Regions from separate parts of the Homo sapiens genome. Here region 1 is linked to region 2. The links come from fine-mapping of genetic effects on gene expression. A gene starts in region 2. The other region holds a variant in brackets. All regions are shown on one strand. Distances are from middle to middle. Region 1 overlaps BCAT1 (branched chain amino acid transaminase 1). Region 2 holds the start of BCAT1 (branched chain amino acid transaminase 1).

Region 1 (2,921 bases), 50 kb after region 2:
ATTGCAGGCGTGAGCCACCAAGCCTAGCCTGAAGAATTCTTTGCAAAGAAAAATATCAACTCAAATTTAAATAATCTTTTCCTTTCTTTTTCTTTTTTTTGAGACAGAGTCTTGTTCTGTTGCCCAGACTGAAGTGCAGTGGCACCATCAATTAGGTATCACTTTCAGCCTTGATCTCTCAGACTCAAGTGATCCTCTTAGCCTCTCAAGTACCTGAGACTATCGGCTTGCATGCCATCAGGCCCAACTAATTTCGTCATTTTTTGTAGAGATGGGATCTCCCTGTGTTGCCCAGACTGATCTCCAACTCCTGGGCTTGTGCAACCCTCCCACCTCGGCCTCCCAAAATGCTGGGTCACAGGCATAAGCCACAATGCCTGGCCATAAATAATCTTTTTTATTTGTTAATTTAGATTTCTGTATATTAGGTTTTATTTAGGGGAATTGCCTGTTTACACTCATGTATTTACACATCAAAACATGAGTTATGGTGGATGTATTCACAGCACATATGTAATAAGGCATGTGTAAAAATGATATTGATAATTTAGGGAATAAAAATGGTAGATTTTATAGACCATCTTTGTTTTTGATATACTTTTCTCTGTCTCAAAAAACAAAAACAAAAACAAACAAACAAACAAAATATATATATATAGCCTACATTGTTGTTAACTATAATCACCCTACTCTGCTATGAACAGTAGACTTTATCGCTTCTATCTAACTGTATGTTTGTACTCATTAACCAACCTCTCTTCCTCCACCTACACCCTTCCCACCCCCTGCCATCTTCTGATATCTATCATTCTATGAGTACTCTCTTCCTCCATGAGATCAACTTTTTTTTTTAGCTCTCACGTATGAGTGAGAACATGCAATATTTGTTTTTCTGGGTTTTTTTTTTTTTCTGTGTTTGGCTTATTTCGCTTACCATAATGACTTCCAGTTCCATCCATGTTGCTACAAATGACACGATTTTACTCTTTTTTAATGGCTGAGTAGTATTCCATTGTGTATATGCACCACATTTTATTTGTTCATTGATGGACACTTAGGTGATTCCATGTCTTGACTATTGTGAATAGTGCTGTAATAAACATGGGACTGCAGATATCCCTTTGATATACTGATTTCCTTTCCTTTGGAAAATACCCAGTAGTAGGATTGTTGGTTTATATGGTCATTCTACTTTTAGTTTTTTTTTT[G/TG]GAAAGCTTCATACCATTTTCCACAGTAGATAAACTAATTTACATTCTTACCAACAGTGTATAAGCGTTCTCTTTTCTCTGTATCCTCATCAGCATCTGTTATTTTTTGTCTTTCTAATAATAACCATTCTAACTGTGGTTGCTTTTGACATATTTCTCTACCTTTTTGTTAATCTACATCATTTATAACATTTCATATGGCCTTTTGGGTCTCTCTTGGGTAGTTTTCGTATTTCTTCTCCCCTCCCCATTTATGATGCAGTCATATTACATGAGGATGCAGTTTTGCAGCAGGGCCTAGCAATGAGATACGTTGTTACACATCCTGGCGAATCTTTCTGTGGACTCTAGGATCCTCTTCATTTGCAAGAGGTCAGCCATCTATTTCTTCCAATTCCTCCAGCTTCACATATCTCCACAGAATGCAACACTGCAAATCTGCAGTTCTCTTCATGATCCTCTTTATTAGATTTTAAAAGAGTATCTCCAAAAGATGAACATAGTGCCTAAGGCTTTCCAAATGGAGTAAGAATAATGCACAAGAACCTAGAATAAAGTTATTAAATGTCTGATACAGTTGTAATACAGACTTGATTTTTGAAAAATGTGGCCAATGAAGAGAAGAGCAAATGTGCTATACGATGGTGAGCAAAAGGTGTTGACAGGCCTGGCATGGTGACTCACCCCTGTAATCCCAGCACTTTGGGAGGCTGAGGTGGGTGGATCATTTGAGGTCAGGAGTTTGAGACTAGCCTGGCCAACATGGTGAAACCCTGTTTGTATTAAAAATACAAAAATTAGCCAGGTGCGATGACACATGCCTGTAATCCCAGCTACCTGGGAGGCTGAGGCTTGAGACTTGCTTGAACCGGGGAGGCGGAGGTTGCAGCGAGCCGAGATTGTGCCACTGCACTCCAGCCTGGGCAACAGAGCAAAAAAAAAAAAAAAAAAAAAAAAAAGTGTTGACTGAACCCTGGCTGAAACAGTTTTCAGGTGCTTTCAACAAATTTACACTTCCCTGCCCTGAGCCTCCCTATTTCAGAACAAATGATTACCCAACTGCAAACTTTGAATTAGGAAGTTGTTTTTAATATGCCCTGTTTTTCTCAATATTTCTTGCCATTTCACAATCAGTTATTGTGGCATTCCAATTCTTCCACAAACATATGATGTGAAACATCCTGACTTCGATGTCATCAGGGAATGTGGAGCATTGGAAAGAGACAGATTAATTATGCAGAAGAAAGTATCATTTGACAAAATATTATTTTTATTTATCTTTGGAAAGGAAATCTAGAAAAAGAAAATACTTTTTAAAGAACACTGATAAAAATTGTTTATAAAATTTGTTTCCTTTAGGAAACAAATCGTTCCCTTAAAACTACATTTCATATCTGCCCCAAACGAGTCACATGTCTTCAGCTAATATTGCTTGTTTACGTTTGAACTTTATTCAATTCTATCACCTAGTAATTTAGTATTCTTAGGTAATTTCTCTTTGAGCTCAGGTTAAAAGTTGTTATTTTTAGTTTTCAGAGTTGCAGAATTTTTTTTTCAAGTAGAGAAAAGTTCATGATGAGATTCTGAAGCCACCTAATCGTATATTACTTTGAAAAACTGGATATATGCCGGGCGCGGTAGCTCACACCTGTAATCCCAGCACTTTCAGAGGCCGAGGTGGGTGGGTCACCTGAGGTCAGGAGTTCGAGACCA
Region 2 (2,921 bases):
CATTTTGAGACATTTCAGATTACAAACCACTGTTATATACCAGCCTAGCATGTAGAAATCACTCAGTACATTTATTGAACACATAATTTAACCATTCATTCACCTGACCAACAGTCATTAAGCACTGACACATTTGTTTTCAACACTCCCTCTCTTCCACGGCAGGCCACTTGGTATGGGAGATAAATATGACAAAGGATCTGCCCTTACGAATCTCATAATCCACTGAAGTGACAACTGTGCAAACAAATAATTAAAGTAAAATTAAGAAGCTGGGCACAGTCTCACATCTGTAATCCCAGCAATTTGGGAGGCGGAGGCGAGGGGATTGCTGAGGCCAGGAGTTCAAGACCAGCTTGGCCAATTTAGTGAGACCCCATCTCCATTAAAAAATGATAAAATAAAATAATTGATTTTGAGAAAGGATGTGGACAAAGTGCAGCACATAGACCAAGGGCCCAGTTCTGTTTGAGGGCATTGGAAGCAACTTCCACAGCAAAGACTTGGGTTGAAATTTACAAAAATAGGAGTTTGCCAGCTTGACAGAGAGGCAGCGGAGGTCAACCAGCAGCACACTTAAGCAGTCATGGAGGCTGACCTAGGCGCTGGACATGGAAAAGTAGCAATCCTGGAGCTTTGTATAGATGTGGGGAGGGAACTTACAGGGGACCAACTAGGCTACTGGGCAATTTCACATTATAAAGAATTTTATATGCTCAAATTAAAGGATTAAAAATTTTCCCCCATGTACATAATAAATTGGCAAAAATGGTTATATTTGAGGGTGACTAAGGAACTCTGGGAAAGAGATCGGCAAACCAGGCACATGTTCTTGACTACTGCAAAAGTACATTTAAAGTAGCCGCGGGGGATACATGTATACTTTTGGGCAGGATTGTGCCGTGGTCCTCTCAGCATGCAGCAAAGTTACTTTGGGGACAGTAGGGAGGTGGGCAGGAGCCAGTGATGACGGAATGGCAATCACATTTGACCTCTGATCTGTTTATTTCCTCCTCCTTGACGTCTCCATATAAATGTTACACGGGCATCCCCACACTCGGATACGCACCCACAGTGGCTGATTCGGGGGTAACCGTGTCATTTGCTTGCAACACTGGCACCTCTGCCCTGCACCCCGGGAGTGAGCAGTGAGTGAGGCTCGGGTCTGGGCGCTGGCTCCGAATCTTCGGGCTGGGAGAGACTCCACCATCTGGGGGCGGCCTGGGGGAGCAGCCTTAGTGTCTTCCTGCTGATGCAATCCGCTAGGTCGCGAGTCTCCGCCGCGAGAGGGCCGGTCTGCAATCCAGCCCGCCACGTGTACTCGCCGCCGCCTCGGGCACTGCCCCAGGTCTTGCTGCAGCCGGGACCGCGCTCTGCAGCCGCAGACCCGGTCCACACGGCCAGGGGCTACGACCCTTGGGATCTGCCCTCCGCTCAGCTCGAGCTTCCCTCGTGGCCGACGGAACAATGAAGGTAACTACTTATGGTTTTGTCCGTGTTTTACAAAAATGTGTGCGTGAATCGAACCGGCGATTTCTCCAAGAAACATAGTTGGCAGGGAGGGGAGGAAGGCGAGACAACCATGGCTTATATCCCCCGCAAACGTCTCAGTATCTTCTTTATCAATCGTAGTTTGCGGGGACCGTGCATTCTGTTCAGATTTCGGTTTAACCTCCACTCGCAGGACGTGCCTTCTCGGACTTTTTCACATTCGCTTTTGGGAACGGAGGTGAAAGTCTGCTACAGCTCCCTCCCCTGCTTGTGAAGTTTGGAAAGGAAGTGAGGGCTTCTCTCAGTTTCTCCTATGCACAGGAGGTGGGGAATTTTGGAGAGGAGGTCTGGGGATGTCCCGGGCTGTAAATGCGCTTTCCTGCAGCGTGTGTTCGTGATGCAGGAGGGAGCGGCTGGAAGAGTTGACCCGGGTGGAGAGGGGAGGGAGAACGATCTTTTCACTGTTAAAAGCAGAAGGCCCCTCTTATTTTGTTTCTTGTGGAAATTAAAGCTTCTAGGAGTTACAAATGATAGACGCCTAAGGGCATTCATTTGTTAAACCAGTGAGCACCCTAATGGCTCTGATCTTGCTAATCAAGGATAATTAGCCTAGCTGCCTATTATTTCTGACTATTTAGGTGTAGGGATGTACACCGTTGAGTGTTTTGTTTTCCTAGTTTCACACACTGGAAAACTGCAATCGCATATAAAACCCGAAGAGCAACTTTTTCCAAGGAAAGTGAAGGATGGGCAGATATTCTTGCCATCTAACATTTTGGAATTGAGATGACCATAATGCAATCTGAACTTCTGGTAGGAATAAAGCCTCGTTTCAGAGTTTCTAAGGAGGGAGATGAAGCGTGGTTCTCAACTGCTCTTATCTACAACCCATCCCAGACCATAGTTTCACTTAGAAGAAATAATATGTAAATAGCGCCTTTGTTGCCAAACAAAAACTTTCACTACAATTAAACAGTAACCGAGTGGAAACTATGCGTTTTTGTATTCAACAGAGATCACACAACTTTTCTTCTATAGTTAGAGGTTCTATTTCTGGCTTCCTCATGCTTGTTTCATTTCAGATGAAAAACACACTTTAGTTGATTATAGCTTTAGTAAGTAAAAGGAGAAAACTAAGAATGAACAGTCTTGCTTTTCCAGCTTTTTCCTGTCCATGTGCAGTTGTGGTTAATTACGCGTTTTTGTAGGTCCAAAAACCCCTGTCCCTTCCACAAGATACTTTTATAACATGGGGAACTAGGTAAGATATCTACAAGTAGTCTCTTTTCTGTTTCCTGATATTTCCTAAGATTAAGAAAGAAATGATTGTATTCTAGGTATGATCGAAGAAGTATGGAAGGTTCCATTAAGTTAGTTTTATCACAATATTTCAAACATCTTTCCACTTATCTCTTAAATATGTATTGCTA

The links. PIP is the estimated chance that this variant, and not a neighbour inherited with it, causes the effect.
Region 1: its variant is fine-mapped to the expression of BCAT1 in whole blood (INTERVAL, PIP above 0.99).

Annotation. Positions count from the first base shown.
Region 1 is chr12:24,897,767-24,900,687 of GRCh38, reverse strand. All of the region lies in intron 2 of BCAT1 (branched chain amino acid transaminase 1), which reads left to right. Among named protein-coding and RNA genes, the nearest start is that of BCAT1, 50 kb to the left of the region's middle. The variant G/TG (reference allele first, on the strand shown) is at 1,209.
Region 2 is chr12:24,947,479-24,950,399 of GRCh38, reverse strand. BCAT1 (branched chain amino acid transaminase 1) reads left to right here and starts at 1,299. Exons shown (of 11, transcript NM_005504.7): 1 at 1,299-1,473. The coding sequence starts at 1,468. It overlaps BCAT1-DT (BCAT1 divergent transcript), which reads right to left and starts at 1,237. Exons shown (of 3, transcript NR_199054.1): 1 at 1,070-1,237. RefSeq lists enhancers at 846-935, 1,056-1,405.